Regions from separate parts of the Homo sapiens genome. Here region 2 is linked to region 1. Evidence: fine-mapped QTL for protein levels in blood plasma. Region 1 holds a variant in brackets. A gene starts in the other region. All regions are shown on their forward strands.

Region 1 (11,897 bases):
ATATGACCAGCAACTTCCTGTTAAACTTTGGATGTAGCAACCAACGAGAAATATGGCCCTCGGTGGTAAGAGAGGAAAAAATAGTTTCTGTATACAAAGCCCTAACATAATAAACAAGCAGAAGCACTTCCTGATAAATAGCGCCAAGCAAACATTCACATCCTTGCCTCTGCTATATTCAAAATGTTTTTACTAGACCAAGTGCAAAGTATTATTATCATTAATATTAAGTTTATCCTTCTTGCAACTGAGCCAGGCTCCAGTTCTACAGGAAGGTCTGGTAGGAACCAAGGGTATGGCCGTTTATCGTGGCAGATACTTTGGTTTTAATTCCCTTCATATAAATGTTGTAAAGGCATGGATGGATAGAAACATTACTGCATTTGGTGAAACCCACGCCCAACGGCCCCAGGCCTGCAGCAACCACCCCACAGAATGATCAACACGGAAACTCCAGAGCAGTAAACAGGCCAATTTCAGATCCAGCGACAATCCCAGCAGGCGGCCAGGGGAAGAAAAGCAAGGACGACAGCAAAGACAGACGGGTGCCCACAGGTTCCCTGTAGCTACCGCCACGGAGTGGGAACCCCAGCCAGGGCACAGACAGAGGCAGGGCCCCTGTGAAAAGGGGCAAGGACTCAACTTGCAGGGAAGCACTGCCTTGTGCTACCTTTGTTCACTAACGTGAAATGCTACTCTGAGTGTTCCTTATTTTTAAATCAAAAATTTAAAAACCACACACACACACAGAAACCTTTCCATCTATTGACATATTACATACAGCATCATATGAGTACAGTTCGACGAATTTTGACAAACCGAGCCCACCCCTGTAAATCGCACCCAGACCAAGACAGAAGACATCAGCAGCTCCCAGGAGGCGTCCCTGTGCCCCACTGCCATCAACACCTGCCCCCACGCCCACCCTCCAGGGCAACCACCATCTGAACATCCTTGTTTACACGTCTTCCCGGACTGGAATTGGAATCCCAGAAATCAAGTGGAGTAAATGAAGTGCAACTTTGTGCCAGTGTGTTTGAGTTGCGGCTGCTGGGCCTGCAGGTGACAAGGCGCTGCTTCCCCAGAGACCTCTTTCAGCATTCCCGTGGTATTAGGAGAAGGCACTGCAGCAGAGCAGAGAGAGGAGCAAGGCAGGGCTGGGGAAACTGCTCACATGGAGAGATGTGGGAGGCAGTGTCTCCACGAGATGTCAGGGCCCTGGAAGAAAGGAGACCCTGTTGGAGGGGCCAGGCAGGACGAGGGGACACTAAATACCAGTGGCAGCCATAGAATGATGTGTGTGAAGTGCCACCAGCCACAGGGCTCAGCCATGCAGCTGGGTGGGGTGGGGGTGTGTGAGAGGGTCCTGCTTAGATAGCAGCATCACCACCCCTAGGAGCTGGGCTTGGATCTGATGAGAGTCTGTTTCCTCCCCTAGATGATGAGCCGTTCCCAGGGCTGGCCACTGAGGATCTGGGTCACACAGGCCACTGTCCTCCCCACATGAAGTTTGCAGTCAAGTTAGAAAGATGACAGGTAATGAGGTCCACACCACACAGCTTTGGTGTGGCACGTGTCAACACATTCGCCGACAGAACCAGTGCATGAATGAAAGCTTGAGGGCACAGAGCACCTCTCCTGTCTTGCCTGAGGTGTCCCCAGGAGCAAGCCTGACAGCCAGCTGGGCCACCCTGTGAGACCGGGGCCCGCTGGAGCCTTTCCATGAGGAAGACTGAGCCGAGCGCCTGCACTAGGAGGAGCCACGGTACCGCCAGGCTCCTGGGCCCGCTGGGGGAGTGGGCTGCCAAGCACCCAGTGAGCTGCGGCTGAAACAATGATGACATTTTGTCATCTCTGTCAACACAACAAGAACTTGGGAGGCAGGCAGTCCCCCGCCATGCACAGTGCCCAGTACTGTCACCAGAGCCTCTCCTTTATCCTTCTCCTCTGTCCCATCAGCTGCTGGTGGCTCCTCCCTCCCTGGCAGTCACAACACAGCCACCTCGTTCTGTGCATCATGGCCTCAAACTGCTCCTCCCTGCTCATCAGGGAGGGAACAGCCAATGTTCCCTGTGTCTCATTGGCCATAAGGTCACCTGCCCTGCAGGGTGCTGAGACAGGGACTCTGGTCACAGGTGGCTGTTGGAACCCTCCCTCCTCAGAGCTTCGCAGGTCAAAGGGATGCGATTAGACTCTGTCAACACCTCTAAGAGCTCCACTGTGCGCAACAGAGAACGAGATTCCGTCTCAAAAGAAAAAAAAATCAATCTATCCACCATCATAACTTTAGTCAATATGCTTATTCCGTCACCTCTTCATTTGTCATCCTTCAACAGTATCTACTGATTCTGCACTATTAAAAAATGAGAATTTCCCTCATTTACCCTCCCCCACCTCCTCTCAGTCACGATTGTTAGTTTTCACATTCGTTAGATTCGCACCTGTCAATATAGACTTGGGCATTTACTGCTTTTCCATCCAGCTGAGACTGCTGAATCTTCAGCACACCGTGGAGGCCTCTGAAGCCCTGTCCTGTCCTCCGTCTCCCCTCCCCTCTTCCCCTTCTCTTCCTCCATCCCGTGGGTTTTTCTTTTGCAGCACCAAGGATGGCATCATATTCTGTTTGATGAGCATAATTAAGTTTTCTGTTCTTTGTTAAGTTTTATCTGTGTTGAAAACAAGTCAACGGCATTCGCGTTTTTACAACTTTGTAAGTACCATTCATAGCAGCCAAGTGGCTTCCTTCTCTGTGGTTGGTGGCTTTCCCGGGGCCACAGGAGAGAATGACTTCAGCGTCAAGGCTGAATGCATTCTGTCTCTCATAAACTTTCTTCTTGCTCAAAACCATAACGTGGCCGGGCGCGGTGGCTCACGCCTGTAATCCCAGCACTTTGGGAGGCCGAGGCGGGCGGATCATGAGGTCAGAAGATGGAGACCATCCTGGCTAACACGGTGAAACCCCGTCTCTACTAAAAACACAAAAAATTAGCCGGGCGTGGTGGCAGGTGCCTGTAGTTCCAGCTACTCAGGAGGCTGAGGCAGGAGAATTGCTTGAACCTGGGAGGTGGAGGTTGCAGTGAGCCAAGATCATGCCACTGCACTCCAGCCTGGGTGACAGAGCGAGACTCCGTCTCAAAACAGAAAACCATAACATATTTTTAGTTTTTTCATGATTAGACTGTGGCTTTCACAGACAACTTTTTGATATCCCCCCCATGTTTGATTTACCTTTCATTTTTCTCATGGACGAAGAATAACTGCCTCTTGATTGCGCTTCTCTGTCTTGCAATCTGTGCTGTTTATTTATCTGTGGACATAGCTTCTAACTTGTCACTCCATACTCCCATTTGTAACTGCCAGGGCTGGAAGCCTATGAACTATATTCCCAGCTTCTCCTGATGCAAGTTTCCGGCCAATGAGAGGCACTGGAGGCTGGAAGGCTGGATCATGGGAGAAAGCATGTCCCCTTCTCCAGCTCCGGGAGCAGCTGGCAGCTGAGAGTGACTGCAATCTGCAGATTGGTGGTGGGTGTCACAATAGTGGCGGAGCTGTTGATGTTTAGGCTCCGTAGCAGCGGCCAGAGGGTAACTCCTGGTTTCTGGATGAGGGGCAATCGTGCTCATGAGCTCTCGTAGCTTCACTTTCCATTTCATTCTCCAGTTCTATAGGGGGTCAGTGACCTCCTGTAGCTGCTGCTCTCTGAGTGCTATGGAATGAATGTTTGCGTCCTTCCAGATTTTTATGTCAAAGCCCTGCCCCCCAATGCAACTGTATTTGGAGACAAGGCCCTTAAAGGTAATTAAAGTTAAATGAGGCTGGATGTGGTGGCTCATGCCTGTAATCCTAGCACTTTATGAGGCCGAGGCAGAAGGATCACCTGAGGTCAGGGGTCTGAGACCAGCCTGGCCAACATGGCGAAACCCCGTTTCTACTAAAAATACTAAAATTAGCCAGTCATGCTGGCACATGCTTGTAATCCCAGCTACTCGGGAGGCTAAGGCAGGAGAATCGCTTGAATCCAGGAGGCCGAGGTTGCAGTGAGCCAAGATCACGCCACTGCACTGCAGCCTGGGTGACAGAGTGAGACTCCGTCTCAAAAAAAAAAAAAAAAAAAAAAATTAAATGAGGTTTAAGGATGGGGCCCAGTCTGGTAGTTTGTTCAATTTCTTTTCAAAAGAGCATTGTTTTTGTTTTTGTTTTTGTTTTTTGGCATGAGGTTGTAATCGCTGTGTGCCTGGGGTCGGGAGGCTGACTGACAAGGCAGCTTCCTCCACAGACTTCCAGCAACAGTCCTGCCCTGGCTGCGCTCCTCTCCCCCAGGCCTCCAGGCCACCAGCTTGCAGCCTGTGCTCCTCTGGGGAGGGATCCCCCGCTCCCCCACTCCCAGCCTCGCCCTGACAGTGATCCGAGTTGCGGATTTTGGCTTTCTCCTCCATCCTCACCCGTCCAATTGCCCTCCAGCTCACAGAATCATTTTCTCAAAATTTTCAACTGCTAATGACCCTGTCACCAGGCCACCTGGCAGGGAAGCCCACTTGTCCCCTACCAATAGGCCCATGGTGTCTTGGAGGCTTTCCTGGTCTCCTGGGACAAGACAGCTGCCCGGCTTGTAGCCAGGACTGTGCCTGTAGCCCACCTGCTGTAAGGTCACGCCTGCAGGCCCTGAGTTTTACCGGCAAGATCTAAGTCAGTTCTCTACCAACACCCTAAGGCAGGTACTACTACTTTCTCCGTTTAGAACTGGGGAGAGTGAGATGCAGAGAGCCCCTCCCCCGACCCTAGGCAGAGCCCGAGACTCGCCGCAGGCTCATGCACTGTGCCACCTGCCCTCCTGAGGCCACGCTCTTCTCACGGGAGGTGGCCCTGTGGCCTCACCTGGGCCGGATGGGAATTGCAAACTTGAAACCACTACGTCTTTTTCCCTGTTTTTATTTTAAAAAGGATATTAAACGAACATATCTTTTAAAAATTAAAGTGAATTGAAGTTCATTTTCATTTTATCCTGAGAGGTTCACAGTAGCTCTTGAAATAAATGAAAGTGACTTTAAACGGGCTTTGTTTTGAGGTGATCTCAGCAGCTCTGAGGATACGCACAGCAGTCTTGGAGTCTCACAAAACTCGGCTGGAAATCTCTGGCCCCAGAGGGAGGAAGATGCTTCTCTATTTCTACCTGAGGCCTTCCTTAGGCTCCTGGTCAGGAAGGGAGAAGAGACCCCGGGCAAGGGGTGAGAAGTGGGGGTGGGGGAGTCTTGCCCCTTCCTCTGGACGACAGAGCCCATTACTAGAGGGAATTTCAATGGTGTTTCCAACCCCAGGTCTCACCCAGGAAGGAGGAATCTAAACAAACTCAGCTGCCAGTGGCTCCCCCATAGCGACAGTTTGAGGCCGGATTCACTGAAGTTTTCACAGATGAGTCTAGGTAAAGTTGTGGGGGTTTTTGCTGTTGTTTTGTTTTGTTTTGTTTCTTTGAGACAGGGTCTCAGTCTGTCGCCCAGGCTGGAGTGCAGTTGAGTGATCTTGGCTCACTGCAGACTCCAACTCCTGGATTCAAGTGATTCTCCTGCCTCAGCCACCCAAGGTGTGAGCCACCATGCCCAGCTAATTTTTGTATTTTTAGTAGAGACAGGGTTTTGCCATGTTGCCCAGGCTGGCCTTGAACTCCTGAGCACAAGCGATCCGCCCACCTCAGCCTCACAAAGTGCTGGGATTACAGGCATGAGCCACCGTGCCCAGCCAAAGTTGTGGTTTTAAGCAGGATGTTCCAAAGTCCAGTGGTTATGACCAAACGCCACACAGAGACAGAAGCCTCCCGCACAGCCCCAACTCCCAGCAGCCATGGTGTTCCAGGTCCTCCAAAGTCAGCTTCTCCTCCAGGAGGCCACTGAGCTCCCCAGCTGCGGGGCTGAGGCCACACAGCCCTGTGCGGTTCATCTGCCATCCGGGCCCTTCTTCCTCTTCTGAGCTTCACAGTTAGCCCAGGGAAGAAAACAGGCGTGTCTTCCACAAACCCTGAAGGGAATGGGAAGTGCCAACAGTGAGAAGGACTTAGATGTAAAGGATTTACACACGGTCACGGCATTTCCACAACCCTCTGGGCACCTGAGTACACGTGTGCAGACACACCCCCAGATGGGGGCGAGGGGTGGGGTGCCCCAGCTATTCACACCTAACCATGAGCGTGTGAGGCAGCAACACTTAAAGGCCACTTGCTTTCCGCAGCATCTCGATGGAGCAGGAGCCTGCCTGGGGCATCTCCAGGCAGCTTGGCTGAGCACCCAGGACTGAGTGCAACCCTCAGCGTTTACATTTTTTAGTACTATTCACTAAGAGAGAGAGAGACAGAGAGACAGTGATAGAGACAGGGAAGGACAGAGACAAAGAGAGCAATGGGTGAAGAAAGAGCAAGCAAGCAGGGATGTCGGACATTTCACACAACGCAGTCACCAGGGAGGCAAGAACACTTACAGAACAGTTTGAGCCAAAGAGTCACTCAGGGACAGGAACAGCAATTTCTTAAATATTTAAAGCAGACACCCTGTGAGCGGCTGTGGAGGCGGCTCTTTGTTAATATTTAACACGAGCTGGGCAGTTGCCGGGAAAACA[G/A]CTGTTTACAGGAGAGATTAACCAATATTCATCATTGCTCAAAGCTGTGGGGAGGCTTCAGGGGACAGGCAGCTGCCGGTATTTCTAGAATACAGCAGCTCAAGGCCACAGGGCTGGGGAGGCTCACGGTGTCCCCAGGGTGCATGAAAACTGTAAACAGGCAGTTCGGGGTCACCTACCCTGCTCCAGAATCACGGTTTGCAGGAAACCCAGCCCTGCAGCTGGGCCTGGGTGGTGGCTGCTGGCCGGCCAGCCAGCACCTCGCTGGACAGCTGCGTCCCACAGTCCCAGGCTGGGCTGTCCTTCAGGCCCATCCACAGTCCCAGGCAGACTCCTCGTGCACTCCCTGCATGAAGTCGGGGGCAGGTGCTCGAAAGTAGAGGGGTTCCCACTGATGGAAAGTGTCACCAGCCTGCCTGCGAATCCCCCAGCTCACACTTGGGCTTGCAGGGACACCAGCCAGGCCGTCTTGCAGAGAAGACAAGCTGCCTATTTTCAGGGGCTATGAGTCTTGTTCATGACAGTTTTCTCCTCTATGTGCCAAACATTCAAGAGCCTGGCCATTTTCACACAGCCCCATAGCCTGGGTGAATCAGGCCTCACTCCCCTGTACTTCCTTCCAAACATTCTATCACTCCCAACACCCTCCACCCAGGCCTCATGGAACTACACACAGATCACGCTTGGGCCCAACTGGATGCGGAATCCCAGCTCAGGACCAAGGAATGCTGCTGCTGTCTCCACAATGCCCTAGACCTGCAACCCTGGGCGCTTCCTGGCATACCACTGCCCACTCTGCCCACACCACAGCTGACTGACTCCTAATGGCTCTTCAAACAGTTGTTTGCACACCTGACCATTTATTATAAAGGAAGAAGCGCCGAACAGCACGTGCTGCTCTGAGGAATCTGTACAAGAATTGGGGCTCTGCGTATTAATCTTTGCTAAAATGAATTTAGTTTGGGTATTTAGGTTTCACAGCATAAATATATTTTTCTCTACTCTGAGACCAATTGGCACAGGCTGTCTAAGGCATTAGAAGAACAGTCCTTAATCTTTCTGTGTTCACAGCATAGTTCTGAATACCAGAAATCTAGAGGAATGCTTGAAGAGGTTTTTAAAAAATTAAACAACATTAAAGGAGTCAGCAATGATTTCCATCTCAGCAAAACAGGGGCCCTCAGGGTCCAGAAACATCCATGGCCATTGAGCAGTCACTTGGTCATTCTTGTGGATGCTTTTTTTGAGATGGAGTCTTGCTCTGCCACCCAGGCTGGAGTGCAGTGGCGTGATCTCGGCTCACTGCAACCCCTGCCTCCCAGGTTCAAGTGAGTCTCCCGCTTCAGCCTCCCAAGTAGCTGGGATTACAGGCATTAGCCACCACGCCTGGTTAATTTTTGTATGTTTAGTGGAGATGGGGTTTCACTATGTTGGCGAGGCTGGTCACGAACTCCTGACCTCAAGTGATCCACCCGCCTCGGCCTCCCGAAGTGCTGGGATTACGGGCGTGAGCCACCACGCCTGGCCTTCTGGATGCTTTTTATTTTGTGGTTATGCAGCATCAGGACAGCCTTTTAACATTTGAGAAGTGAACCGTCTTAGTGGGAGGCAAAACCCTGCTTCCCTCTACAGAAGCCTAAAAGGCCAAGAACGTGCACTCCCTGACACCGGTGGGGGGTAGCAGGGCTGTGCAGCCACATGCCCAGGAGGCACGGAGACTTCAGGGTCCGTCCCCCCATTCCCAGGTGGCAGAGCAGTGCCCCAGTGTCCTGGGTGCGAAGAGCAGTGGCTAGTGCATGCTCAGCACCAGCAGTGTCCTAGCCACATGTCTTGGGGCTATAGCTGTGGCCACTTGGCACCTCCAGGTTCCTGACCCTTCCCCACAGTGACTCAGCAGGGAGTTGTCTGTGAGCCACTTGATACCCTTTTACAATATTCCCTTTCTGATGATTAACCAGAAGTGCTTTGCAGGCGGGAAGCCTGGTGCGCACAGTCAGGGTCTGCCCTGTGCTGCTGCTTGAGGACTGTCTCCTGCCCTGACGGTGCTCTTCAAAGCTGCCGCGGGCCTGCTTGATGTAATGCTCACTTCTGACCTCTTTGCCCATGCAAGGCACACCCTGCCCTGCCGTCCCTCCCACCCCCTTCCTCCTTGGCATTCTGATGGACTCAGTGGTCCCCAAAATTGCACACATCAATTAAACCAGCAGCACACTCATGGAGGGCGGGTGGCGCCCTGGGTGCTGCTGTGTGCCAGCTGTCAATCACCGTGGGCTGGAATGTGGATTACAAGCCTGGAAGGGGTATCGCGCACTCAGGGTTTAGCCACAGTATACAAACGGCTTTTCCACCTTTCCTGTCCTGAAGGCCACAGCAGGGCCTGCTCTGCTCCCTGCGGCAGTGGTCCTCATGCTTGGCCAGGTGACTAGGCATACTCGCAGTTACTGCAGGGCCACTGTGTCCCCGGCTGAGCCTCGTGCCACAGAGAATTGGTCAGAGAAGAAGGCGGCTTAGAGAGGGTCCGGTTGGCCTGCAAGCCTGAGCCCCTGCCCAGGTGGAGATTAAATCCTTGTTACCTGATGGTATTGACGCTTAAAATTAAAACTGAGTTCAGTTACTGAAAATAGAGAAAGGGCCACTTCTATGCTCCTGAGATCGGAAGTGAGGTTTATCCCCCCGGGGATCTGAAGGATCATCCACTGGGCTTCCCTAAAGCGGCATTGTGTCATTTCTCCCGGCTAGGAGAGGTCTCCCCATTCTCAATTCCCGTCACTTATTCTCACTCAACAGAACCTCTCAGAGCACCTACCGTGTGCATGAGCCCAGTGTCGATGGGCCACGGGCCAGCCAGCCTGGGACGCGTGTCCAGGGCAGCTGGGATTTGGACTCTACTCCACGAGGCCACACAGGGGAAGGGGAAGCCCAGACGGCTGTCAGGGCATTCTTGGGAGCCGGGGGTTTGGAAGGGCTGTTGGGCGTGCTGGGGCACCGGCTAGGCTGTGGGGTGGTGACTCTCCTGCAGCCTTGGGGGGCTACCCTGAGATCATCTGTCACCCCACTGCTTGCTGCTCACTCCTGATCCCGCATTCTGGCTGTGGGCAGAGAGCACTGCCTGCCACATGCTGCGACCCGTGGCCCCTTCGCCAGTTTAATTTTCTTTTGTGCCCGTTCCCCCCTCAGCGTTCTAGTATTTTAATGTGTGTCCTTTTATTTGCTTGTGTCCCAGTATAAGACACACTATTCTATTTTGGTTTCTAAAATTATTTCTTTACTAGATTGAACCTTTTTAATTTTATTTTTATTGTGGTAAAATATATGTAACATAAAATTTACCATTTTAAATATTTTCATATGTACAGTTCAGTGGCATTAAGTATATTCACACTGTTGTACAACCGTCACTGCTATCCACCTTCAGAGCTTTTTCATCTTCTCAGTCTGAAACTTTGTTGCCATTAAACACTAACTCCTCATCCCACCTCTGCTCAACCCCTGAAAGCCATCTTCCTTCCTTTCTTTTTCTTTCCTTCTTTCTTTCTCTTTCTCTTTCTTTCTTTCTTTTTCTTTCGCCCTCCCTCCCTTCCTCCCTTCCTTCCTTCCTTCCTTCCCTTCCCTTCCCTTCCCTTCCCTTCCTTCCTTCCTTTCTCTTTCTTTCTTTCCTTTTTTTTGAGACGGAGTTTCGCTCTTGTTGCCCAGGCTGGAGTGCAATGGTGCGGTCTCAGCTCACTGCAACCTCCACCTCCTAGCTTCAAGCAATTCTCCTGCCTCAGCCTCCCAAGTAGCTGGGATTACAGGCACCCACCCCCAGGCCCAGCTAATTTTTGTATTCTTTTTAGTAGAGACGGGGTTTCACCATGTTGGTCAGGCTGGTCTCGAACTCCTGACCTCAGGTGATCCCCCGGCCTTGGCCTCCCGAAGTGCTGGGATTACAGGGGTGAGCCACCGTGCCCGGCCCCCACCATTCTACTTTCTGTCCCAATAATTTTGACAACTCCAGGCACCTCACATACGTGGAATCACAGAGTATTTGTCCTTTTGTGCCTGGCTTATTTCACTCAGCATAAGGTCCTCAAGGTCTGTCCCTGTTGTAGCACCTGTCAGAATCTCCTTCCTTTTCGAGGCTGAGTCATCTTCCCTTGCCTGCGTAGACCACGTTTTGCTTATCCACTTATTCCTTGTCACTCAGTACTGTTTGGTACTCTTGACCTACATAAGGACTATTTCACTCTTGGCCTCGATGGGTTTCTATGTTCACTCAGCACCAGAACCTCATAGTAGTTTCCTGCCTCTGTGCACATCTGGGCCGTTGCTTCTAATGGGGACCTGGCGTCCCGGGGGTCCTCTGCACCTGACTTCCCCTCTTACCCGTGACACAGGCCCCCAGCCTGGGACGCTCCTGCCGCAAGCCTCAGTGTGCAGGTCTCGTTTATCATTATCTGTGTTTCCGCATTTTATGTTTCCCACCCTTCTTGCTTCCATTTGGCTCTGTTACGGTTCCTCTGTCTGCTTTCCATTATTAATACTGCCCCTTAGCTGAGAATACCTATGACACTTAGTATAGATTCCGATGGGTGACTGTGGCTCAGTGTGTTTTCTCCCTGGGAGAGAGAAGTGCCCCGGGGCCTGCATTTGCCTTGATCTTAGGTGCATGTCCTCCTGGGGACAGGTAATGGGGAAGGTGCTGAAGCTCAGGCCCGGGGTGTCTGTGGCCCCCATGAAGGGGGTTATGAGATGGGAGATGAGCCCTGAGACCATGAGGTTGCTTCTGTTGCCAGCACTTTCCCTAACTCACAGTTGTAGGTGGCCCTGAGAAGAGGTGGGTTTTTCAGGTTGCAGAGCCCACCAGCCCTGGGGAGCAGAGGGGGCAGCCAGGAGGGGTGCCCGAGGAAGGCTGATAGGAATGTACCCAGCCTCTACCCATGCACGCCTGGGACTGGACCCTCACCAACACAAGGCGGCTGGGCTGGGATTGCTGCTATCCCAGAGGAATGGAATAAAGTGGGGTGGACACAGGAGCAGGACTTCCAAGCTCTCCCCACCACTGCTCCCTGCCCTGGCCCTGGGGCTGCTCCCACCCACACCCCTCACGGGTCCCAGTGGCCTCAGGCTTCCCCGGGGCTCTGTGGTTTCATGCTCCCTCTCCCCAAGGTGTCTCCAGGGTCGAGCCGGGCAGGGGTGCAGCCCATGCTCTCACTGAAGCCCGTGGCTCTTCCGGTACCTCCACGGAGTCTGACCCGATTTCAAGCCCTTGGTGGATGCTGACGGGACCCCTGTGGACTACCTGTATTTTCTCTTCA
Region 2 (11,199 bases), not on the chromosome of region 1:
ATTGATGACATTATATGAGTTTAGAGAGTTTTTCCTGGGAGCGATGGTTAATACTGCATTTGCCCAACCAGCTGCACAATCTGATTAGAGAAGTTATGATGTTGGCAAATTGCAAGGCATTCAGTGTCTAACTGTTGAATGAATGAAAGAAACAACAAACAGGGCAAGCATCACTAATTAATAAAAAAATTTGAATTTGCTACAAAATTACTTGCATTTATCCTCCTTCACCTTAGAGACAATACATAAATATCCTTTTACAAATTGCTAGTCTCACTACCAGTAGCCCAGAATGAGAAATTTAACATTTTTAAACTGTGTTTGCCAGAGTGTCTCTCAGCCTGAGGACATCTGTCTGCGGAGTTGCTGCTTATGCATGCTGGGTACAGCCAGGGTCTGGGTAGGAGTGGGCTGCAGCAGGGAATAAGTCCAAGCTTACACTGACTTCTTGGAGAGGGCAATTGTATTAGTCCTTTTTTGCACTGTTATAAAGAAATACCTGAAACTGGGTACTTTATAAAGAAAAGAGGTTTAATTGACTCACAGTTCCACAGGCTGTACAGAAAGCATGGCTGGGGAGGCCTTAGGAAACGTACAGTCATAGTGGAAGGCAAAGGAGAAACAAGCACATTTACATAGCAGGAGCAGGAGGAAGAGAGTGAAGGGTGGGAAGTGGGGTGCTACACACTTTTAAACAACCAGATCTCACGAGAACTCTACCATGAGACAGCCCTAGGGGATGGTGCTGAATCATTAGACACCACCCCAATGATCCAATCACCTCCTACCAGGCCCCACCTCCAACGCAAGGGATTACATTTCAATATGAGATTTGAGTGGGGCACAAAGCCAAACCATATCACCAATTCTACCAAGCTTGTACTACTGAATAAAGAAGATCCTTCATGTATGCATGCTTGTACACATGAACTCACAAATGTTTACTGAGTTCCTGCTATGATTCAGGTCGCATGCCAGGCTATAGCGATACAAGGCGAGCAAAAACAGATGTGATCCCTGTCCTCATGGAGCTTACAGTCAAGCTGGGTGATGGATGAGTAGCTATGGAGATAAGCATGAAAATTCAGCCACGGGAAGGACCACAAAAGCAAGTTCTATGGTGCTGTGAGTGAGTAGAAAGGGGAGATTTTACCTGGTCAAAGGGTTCCAGGGAAACTCTAATAAAAGCTGAGCTTTGAAGGATAGGTGGAAAGGCAGAAAGGGACGGGGGATGGGATCAGTTGGTGCAAAAACCCTGTGAAGAGGCAGCAAGGTGACCGCAAGACTGAAAGGGCAGCGTGACTGGAGTGACCGTGGATGGGATCTTCTATGGAGAAGGGGGAAGGAGACTTGAAAAGGCCTCAGCACTGCAGAGGAGATGGAGGAACAAAGGTAGGAGAAGCAGAAGACAGGTCAGGACAAGCTCCAGTGTCAGAAGTCAGGGAAAGATGCTTCCAGAACAAGGAAGAGGCCTGTAGGCTGAATGCGCTGAGGGCTCACAAAATCATGATTGAATCTAGACAGAGAGTAAGGTCCCCTCCCAGAGTGGAAGCTACCTATAAAACAGCTCAAGCCTGCTTTTTCATTTCAGGAGCATCATATGAATAACAATTCAGTACTATCTGTGAGCTGTGTTAGGGAAGCACATTGATTTGGATGCTACAGAATCACAGAATATTTTCTCCTAGATGTTTTTGTGCAGATTCTAAAGAATGTAAGGAAAATCGACTTTGCTTCTCAAGCGTGGCCAGAGAGCAATAGTTATAATGTGGATGCAGAAGATGGTGCTTTTTCTTAAGTCAGGGAAATCGAACTGTAAATAAAAGAGGCCCTCATCCTAAATGCCTCCCTGTCAACATTTTATTACTTACGAATTCAACACTGGAGAATTCTTGTTTTGATGGCCTATTGTGCAAAGAGCACTGTGTTTGCAGGTGGAGTATCAGGGTTTGCCTCCTAGCTGTGTTATTCCTTAACTGCATGAACATTGGCTGGACAAAGAACCTAAGTTTCTGCCTCTGTAAAATGGGCATAATAAAGTGTCACCCTCCCTGATGGTTCATGTGGATGAATGAGCGCACACGTTGTGACTATGTGAGTTGCAGAGCACTACATCCTTATGGAGAAAAGATCATAAAGCCTTATCAGTCACTTATTTACATGCTAGTTAGAAGGAGGTGATTGGATCCTTGAAGGAAGGCTTGATGGGTGGTGAGAAGGGTGCAGTATGAAAGGGCATGATGTGCTTGGGTAGGTGCCTTAGAGGGAGACATCAGCCAGGAGGGAAAGGGGCTGGGATCACCACCGGCGAACTGTCTACTTCATCACTTCCTCCAGGCCAGTCACACTGCACAGATGGCAAAGCCCCCGTCAGCTGTCAGCTGGTGCAGATGCCATTTCACAGGTGACCACAGTCTGTGCTCTGATCATGGGCCAGGCACACAGGTGGGGTTCATTATGGGACTACTGAACAAATGATGAATGTCCCCATTTCCAGAGTGAGTGCCTATCTGTCCTCATGCTATCTGAGGCATGGGGGGCTTGAGTGGCATGCCCTGTACACACCAGCATGGGCTTGGGTGGGCAGCTCTGCACTGCTCATGGACTAGCAGTTGTGGTCTGCTCTTGACAAGACGCTGGGAATCAGAAAAATGCAGCCTGGGAAGGCGGCCAGACATATGTTTTCTTAGCATAATGCCGGGCCAGCTTTTCAAACTGCCAACTGCAACTTGAAGACTACATTTTGAGCTCTTGTTCCACTCAGATTTACTAATGTCTCCTCCCCAAACTGTGCTCTTTTTAATTCCACAGGATTAGTGTGATTAGAGTGAACATACCCCTATGTCTGCCTATGAGAAGTAGACATAGGGTTAAAAATCTCCTTGGTGGGAAAATAAGTAAAGGAAGTGTTGCGCAACATTCATGAAAATTCCTTTAAGCTCCATGGCCTGAAGATTACAGCACTTGTCACATTGGATTGTGATTGTTTTCAGTTGTTTGTTTATCTGTTGCATTTGACTGTGAGCGCTTCGAAGCATGGGCTGTCTGTGTCTTAGTCACATTTGCACCCCCAGATTCTACTACATGGCATGGAACAAAAATAGGTGTTCAACAAAGGATATATAAAGGAATAGAAGAATGAATGATTTCTCCTGTCCCCATTGACAAGCAGTAGTTGGCAGAATTGGAATATCTTCTTCCATGTGTGGAATGTAGGCTGGATTGACCTGGGCCATTGGACAGAAACTTAGAACACAAATCTGTGAGTTTTTTAATTTAATCATGCCAACCATGCATATGTGAGGCTGGTGTCTGACACCTTAATCCTTTATGTTTCACTAATTCCCAGTAGATTTGTACAATAGAAGAGAATTGCCTTGGCACTGCCTTGCAGTGGAAACATGTTAGAACTTCTGTGCAGAGGAAGTGTGTTTTGGGCAATGATAGATTCATGGCAGGGTGTTTTTTAAGAAGCACCATTTCTTGTCTGCATCTTTGAAACTCTAAGAACATGAGTGATATAACATTGAGGTCTCATGTAGTTGTTTGCTAAGAGGGATTGGTCACTATCTGGATGATAAGGAAGTGTCTCCGATAAATCTGCAGTGGACACGGGGACATGGCGTGTGCAAAACAGACTTTTATTTGTCCTGTCTCCCCTGATCCTCATAGTTTTAATGAAAATGGGAGAGAGGGAAGGACCTTCTGAGAGTCACGTGTGGTGGAGAGAGATGTGTACTTGGGGTCAGAGGCTCAGACTGGACTCCCAGGCGCACCAGTTAAAGGGCCAAGCACATGCCACACGCCTTCTTGGAGCCTTGATTTTCTCCTGTAAAATCAGAATAGTGCCCCTAAAGTTGTTGTGAGAATCGGAACGAAATGAGTACTGTTCAAGAAAAGAAGTAAAGCATTATTTTATTATTTTATTTTATTGCCAGCTAGAAGCTATTTCTATCACCCTTCTCCCAGGTCAAGGCGAAACTGAGATGGCAGTGTCGACTTGCCTGCTTCTATTTTCTTTTCCCTTTTCCCTCTGTTCATAGAATCCTGGGGACTGTTGTGTTCCTCCAGATCTGCTGTGTCCGATTTATTGAGCTCCCCACAATCACAGCAAGTGCTGTAGGAGCACACTCTCTTTTGTTCTCCTTCTATGTAGTCTTTTAAAAATATCACTATTGTGTAATGGGTATTGTGTAGTGTCCTGCGGCGATCACAATATGCAGATATATTCAAATGTGGTGCTTAAAAAGGAATTAAAGAGCCACATGAGCCAAATTGAAGACTGAACAAGATTAAATGTCAGATGAATAATATGAGACACGCACTTTCAACGCTCTACTTGAGTCTGTACTGGAAGGTCATTTGAACTTGCTTCCCATTTATCCATATGAAACACGAGAATAGCAATTTAATTTACCCTATCACATAGGAATGCCACGACAATGTGTATGAGGAGTGCTGAACTCCTTGGATGTATAGTTATTTTAAAAATAACTAGAACAGGAAATAGTGTATATGAACACAAGCTGATCTGTAAAGCCAGAAAAGACCACAGAACTAAGGCAGACTAATAAGGCATTGATTTTAATGACTGGCCATCCATCCAGCCCCAGAGCAACCTCCACTCTGTTTGGTTTTGATGAACAAAATAGAAGCAACAATCAAGACATCAGGAAATTACATGAAAAAACATTTAAATCTTAAAATCTTTCACAGGACAACAGTATTGATATTGGACTCAAAACTGACAAGAAGGAAGAAAACTTCCGTGTGCTCATATTTTTGAGATGACCACGTTGAGAACAGATGACTGACTCCGAGTTCCATTTTCTTTAAGATATTTTGAGCCTAAAGGTAATAATACCTTTTGATTAAAACACACACTCTCATATTTGTAATGAAATCAGAATCAGAACTCATAAGTGTCAGTAATTTCATTTAATATCAAACAGCCCATGGTTGAGGGTTCTGAAACTCTAAAATTGGAAGTAATTTTGCATTGTGCTTCACTCTGAAATGTACCCCTAAGAAAGTTGCTCTAATAAGTATTCTGGGGAGGAAGGTAAGTGCACATGCATCTCCTGAGGATGCAGGGAAGGAAACTGATGTCTGTTGAGCTTTCACTGTGTGCATATAGAGATTATGGCATATGATTAGTTCATTACAATGAAACTAAAGAGTGACATCCTGAAATTACAGAAGTCACAATGGAGAGTTAACCAGCAGCATGAGAATAGTGTGACTCGGTATATTGCAAATCCTCTTTTTCTCCACATCCAATGAGTCAGAAAATCTCCCAAACCATACCTTTAAGATGCATCCAGAACCTCACTGGTTCTCGTGCCCCACTGCTGTCCATCATGTCCAAGCACCGTCTTGCCTCACTGGGATTGTAAGAGCCTGCTTACCCGTGTCTCCTCTGATCAGAATTCTCCAGTGTTGCCCTTCACCTCTCAGATTGAAAGCCTAAACCCTTCCTGCAGCCTGTAAAGTCCTCAGTGCTGCCTCCCCTTCTCTGCTTTTAACTTAACTCCTGCTATTCATCTGCTTTCAGTCACTGCTAATCCCCGGGGTCTACAGCAGTGCTGGGGACAGAGTAGATCACAATAAGTATTTGCTGAATGAATGAATGAATGGCAATTAACCTCAGCATTTCCTGGATATTACTGTGTTTGGTTCTGTGATGGCCTCTTTTGGGTGACAGATGAGCAATAAAGATAAGTCTTGGTTCTTGTCCTCTTAAGAACAGGGGGGAGTGCACTAGTCAAGACTCATTGGTTATAGAAAATAGAAATCTCATTCCAAGTTAGCAAAAGGGAATGTGCTGTCCCCAGAACCAGCGTTCAGAAAGCGCAGGGGTGAGGTGGAGCCCGGGACTCTTGCATCTGCCCGGCTCTTTTCTACCCACCTGGCCGCTCTCCATGCGTGGCTTCCTTCTCTCCAGCTGGTGTCCCTGGAGGCTGCAGCCAGAGCCACAGGCCCATCCTGGCTACTGCACTGGTGTTCGGTGGCCGCTGTAAGAAGTAATTACAAACGGGGTGGGTGGCTTAAACAACAGAAATCTGCTCTCTCAGTCTTGGAGGCCAGAAGTCTGAAATCAGTTCCACTGGCCTGAAGTCCAGCACAGGCTCTGGAGGAGCCTCTTCCAGCCTCTGGTGAGGGCTGCCAGCATCCCTGGGCTGTGGGTGCATCGTTCCCATGGCTGCCTCCGTCCTCACCTGGATTTCTCTTGTGTGCGTCAATCTCCCTCTCCTCTGTTTTATAAGTTACATACATGACTGCATTAGGGCCCACCCAGATAATCCACGATAATCTCTCTGTCTCAGCATGCTTAATTGCTTTTTAATAAACCATGTAAGGTGACATTCACAGGGTCAGGGACTAGGACAGGAATGTCTTTTTGGGGAGGAAGGCTGTGTTTCAGCCTGCCATGGCTACCATCCTTCCAAATCCACGAATGATGGGAGAAAGAGACCTTTCCACCAGCCCGTGTTAGAAGAGTCCCAACTCTGAGTGACCCTGTCTAGGCCACTGCAGAGCCCTGAGCCAGTGGGGAAGTGGGGCTTTGGGAAGGAGTGGGAGTAAGGAGGGGGCCTGTCACTTGGTTGGAGTTGGGGAGGGAGCTACCATTCCCCCAAAATAGGCAGAGCCGGGTGGCTGCTGGTGAGACAGAAACCACACAGCTCCATTAAATGGCATGTGGGGAAACATGATAACATAAGGGAGTAATGCAGGAAAGTGTGTTTGGGCTGGGCGTGGTGGCTCACGCCTGTAATCCCAGCACTTTGGGAGGCCAAGGTGGGCGGATTGCTTGAGCTCAGGAGTTGGAGACCAGCCTGGGCAACGTGGGGAAACCCTGTCTCTACAAAACATACAAAAATGAGCTGGGCATGGTGGCTGAAACCTGTAGTCCCAGCCACTTAGGAGGCTGAGGCAGGAGAATGGCTTGAGCCTGGGATATGGTGGTTGCAGTGAGCCAAGACTGCACCACTGCACTCCAGCCTGGGCGGCAGAGGCAGAGGGAGACCCTGTCTCAAAACAAAAAGAAAAAGAAAAACAAACAAACAAAAACCTTTGCTGGGAAGCAGGAGAGTTTCCTGGAAAGGAAGGCGGTAGGTTTACACCTTTCCTGGGTGCTCAAATTCAAAGAGATACTGTATTTCTGGTTTTCATCTCTTTGCAATTCATTTACCTTTTTTTTTTCCTCTCTGCAGAACACAAATCCGGTCAAGTTTTGGGTTGTCATGAGGGAGAACTGACATAGCGCTGGGCGGTGAGTTCAGCCAGGTTATCTCTGCGAGGACACCGGTCGGCGGCGGACAGCAGCACGCGGCGTCCAGGACCCGGCCTTCCTAGAGCTTAGGTCACTGTAGCCTCCAGGGGCGCTCCGAGTCCATCTGGAGGGCCGCGAGGCTTCCAGGCTGGAAGGAGGAATAGGGAGAAGGAGGAATAGGGAGACCTGGGGCAGTGTTACAATTACAGAAAAGGGAGAGGCGAGGTCCGCTGAGTCCTTGGCCTGGGCAACAAGGCACACTGAAAACTGGGTTCCTTTTCGACCCGCATCGTGCGCGCCCTAGAAATGACAGCCAGACGGAGCAGGGTCTAAGGACGCTGAAAACCCCTGACGTGGGCGCGCCGGGTGCGGGTAGGGACGTGGAAGGACTGGGCTAGCCACAGGAACTACAGCGCTGCGGACCGGGTGAGGGGTCCCGGCCCGAGTCCCCACTTGGGGCGCAGAGGTGTTTCTGTAAGGGGACAAAGGGCACTCCTCGGCGCGATGGGCGACTTCCCCAGCCAGAAAATGAGAGGGTTAGACGAGGGGAGGAACTTCCTCAGCCACTTGGCCCGGCACAGCGACCGCCCCAAGTTCAGAACCGCTAAGTCAGTCCGGGGCGCTCCGGCCCCTTCGTCCCGCGCCCCGCCCGCCTCCAGCCCGGGCCCCGCCGCCCCCGTCGCCCCTGTCGCCCGGGTCGCCCCCGCCGGCCCTGGCCCCGGCCCCGCACACCGGCAGGGGGCGCCCGAGCGCAGCTAAAAGGCTCGGCGGGAGGTCGGCGGCCTCAGTGGCGGAGCGCGGCTGCCGGTGTGCGGCCGGGAGCGATCGCCGCGGGGCAGGGGCGCGGCGGGCACCGCGCAGAGCGCGCAGAACAGACGGACGGCGGCGGGGACCCGACGGCGGCGCCTCGGCACTCCCCAGACTCCGGCCAGCGCCCCCCTGCCAGCCGCAAGCACCCAGCCCCGGCCCACCCCGGGCTCTCGATGGCCCCCGAGGCCGGGGCGACCCTGCGCGCGCCGCGCCGGCTGTCCTGGGCGGCGCTGCTGCTCTTGGCCGCGCTGCTCCCCGTCGCCTCCTCGGCGGCGGCCTCAGGTACGCGCCGCGCCCGGGCCCCCGGCGCTCCTCAGCTCCCCGCGCACCCTCCTGCGCTCGGGCCCCGTCGTCCCGCTCAGTGCTGGCTACGGGTCGTGTCACTAGCCTGTGCGTCCTCGTCACTCGCGGGTCGGGGCACTTGGCGCCCTGTGTGGGTGGCGGGAGCGGGGACGCCTCGGTGCCCGGGGACCGCAGCGCGCTGGCGTTTAACTTTGCCGTCGCCCGCCTTGGAGTCGGGAGGCTCCAGCCGTCTAAGTGTCCCGGGAGATTCAGGCACAGCGGGGAAAAAAGGAAAAGAAAGGCGACTTTCAGCGTGCGGACTGGGGTAATGCCTTTCTTTGCCCAGAATTTCTCGGGAGCGTAGGTGGTCATCCTACTTTCTCCGCGTTCACCTCTCGCGAGGCAGGATGACGGGCGCACTCGGGAGACCGGAGGGAGGCAGAGCAGGGCTGTTCTAGAAGGTCGTGGGGGAAAGGCTGCGAGCTGCCGCAGGGCGTCGGGTGCCTCTGCGCTCCAGAGGAGAAGCGCTCCAGTGCCAGCTCGGCTCCAGGCGGCAGGAGGCCCGCGCGCCCGGGGGGAACGTTCAAGCTGGGAGAAAATGTTTGTCTTGAGAGGAGGGAGAGGGAAATGAGAAAGCTGATTCCAGAGAAACTCGCCCTTCCCCAATGGCTGAGGCTGCAGCCAGGATGGATGCTTCCTTTGAGAGCAATGCTTTTCAGAAAATGCTAGCGCGCTCCTGTCAGATTTCTTGCAAGCTTCCTGCAGAGAGAGACAAGTTTGTGGCGAGGTTTTCATTCCTAAGCCTTTGGCGGCCCTTGTTACCACCTCCTTTGCAGGCATTTTTACACTTGAAACTGGCTTTTAGGTTATTGGTTTGTAGAAATCCAAGAAGCAGACAATGATCGTCAGATACTATTCCAACGAGGGTACCAGTTTTATGATGCTATTTAGTGTATATATTGTTCTCTTACTTCAGGGGTAAAGGAAGAAAAGTTGGGGATCACATTACTTTGTGACTTTTTGGTAGATACATCATCCCAATGCTTGGCTCAGGTTTATGCGAGGTATTCTGATGCCAATGCCACTTTCTCATAAAAGGCAGTGCCTGCCGTAGGGTCTTTTTCTTCCCATTAGTGAACTCTAGGAAAGTATTCACTGAATACTTTGCACAGTACTTGAGAGGAATAAAACTAAATAAAGTCTTCCAACTTCCCCACCTACAACTCCTGGCTTTTGTTTTTCTAAGTGAAAATTTTCAGAGTGCTGGAAGAGTTTTTGTTTCTGAAAATGATCTGAAACTGGAACCAGTGCTGCCCTGGCTTTGTGGCGATTCCAGCCTTCTGCTTTTCCGATTCCTCTGCCACCTGCCCGTGGGTTGCATGTGAGTGGGTCCGAGCGGGGTTGTTTGTGAGAGCTCCTGGAATCCCACCGCGATCTGCACTCTTGCTTTTTCGCCTTCTGCTCTGTGAATCACTGTGCTGAGGAATGCTGGGGCTGGACAGCTTCCCAGCCCTTCTCTCTACTGTGTTGACGTGGGATCTACAGTCAAATGATGACCAGACTAGAGGTGGACAAAGGAGGACAGGCACATTTCAGAATGAAATCTACTAAATTTAAATTAAGTAATAGAAGGATAGAAACAGACATAGCAACCTGTAGATAGCTCCCCATGCTGTGGATGAAATTATGGGGTACATAACTTCTTTCATGGGCTCCCTTTGACAGCAACGTCATGGATAGACTGCTCCCTCTCTCTGGTTGAACTAATGCATGGACCAAGCGAGCTGCTTGTGTCAAGCTCTCCCCTTCACCACCCTTTTGGGGCCAGAATCTCTGTAAGGAAATTACCCACGGCCACATAATAGTGGCTCCGAGGGACTTTGCTTAAAGCAGGACACACTGAAGATCTGGATAAGCCCTTCAGTGTAGGGTCAATTAAACATAAAACAAAATAAGCAAGCAGTGTCCCCTCCTCCACTCATATTCATCCCTACAATAGGATACTATGCAAACATTAAAATTATGATGGCCTTGCCAGTCTGGTATGATACATTTTTCTAAACACATGTGGATGTACTCACACATGCACATATTTGCAGTGGGTATCTTAGGATGGTTAGGGATGATTTTTATTTTCTTCTTTAAAGAAGCTTTTAGGGAATTTTCCATGTCAAAACTATTTTCAAAGTAATACTAAGATTACTAAGATGCTATTTTCCTTTTTCACAGTTGACATTTGCACTGAGGGTGCAAAAGCTTGATGGGTAAACTGCGGGTGTCTTACTGAGAATCAAGGCAGGGACATCACCATGCACTAGTAGTCTTTGAATTTTGGGGGGACTTTGCAGTTAAAAAAAATTTGCCAGTTTCATTAAGAATGTTCTTGATGCCACAGTAAAATTATTAATTTTACCAAATCTTTGTATCTTTGAGTGTATGTCTTTTTAATAGTGTAAATAAATGGGAAGGACACATAAGTTACTACTGCTGATGACCAAGTTCAGTGGCAACCCCAGGGGGAAGCACTGGTGTGATTGTTTGTGTTATGCATTAAGCTAGCTGGTTTTTTAAAATGGAATGTGGTATTTACCACAAAGAATGACAACAGACAAACTAGAGCTATTCTGACTTGGGTATTTGGCCGATGTTTTCTCAAAAATGAACAAAGGGAACTTGCTACTTCTAGTAAAATAACTGCTATTATTGCTTGCCAATGATAACATTTCAGCTTTCAAGTGAAAATCAGAATTTTGCCAAGTTGTTTCCACCACTGTAAGCTTGAAAGTTTCCCAATATTTAAATTTTTTTCTAGTGAGATCAATGGTGATATAAAT

Which allele goes with the higher level. Alleles are on the strand shown, and positions count from the first base shown. The strength of an association depends on the size of the effect and on how common the allele is.
In carriers of allele A in region 1, the plasma level of the protein whose gene starts at base 8,060 in region 2 tends to be higher than with G alone (moderate association).

Evidence for each region. PIP is the posterior inclusion probability: the model's chance that the variant is causal. Protein levels are from antibody-based Olink assays in UK Biobank. Linkage for the fine-mapping came from a reference panel and not from the study's own genotypes, which makes the PIPs less certain.
Region 2: it holds the start of FNDC1, and the variant in region 1 is fine-mapped to the plasma level of the FNDC1 protein (UK Biobank, PIP 0.95).

What each region holds. Positions count from the first base shown.
Region 1 is chr15:101,521,852-101,533,748 of GRCh38, forward strand. LOC124903567 (a long non-coding RNA gene) reads right to left here and starts at 6,523. Exons shown (of 2, transcript XR_007064784.1): 1 at 6,466-6,523; 2 at 4,914-6,009. RefSeq lists an enhancer at 8,468-9,126. The variant G/A (reference allele first, on the strand shown) is at 6,604.
Region 2 is chr6:159,161,341-159,172,539 of GRCh38, forward strand. It overlaps FNDC1 (fibronectin type III domain containing 1), which reads left to right and starts at 8,060. Exons shown (of 23, transcript NM_032532.3): 1 at 8,060-8,365. The coding sequence starts at 8,257. FNDC1-AS1 (FNDC1 antisense RNA 1) reads right to left here and starts at 8,667. Exons shown (of 4, transcript NR_121668.1): 1 at 8,472-8,667; 2 at 7,193-7,421; 3 at 5,909-6,014; 4 at 4,559-4,848. RefSeq lists a silencer at 7,939-8,108 and an enhancer at 8,915-9,414.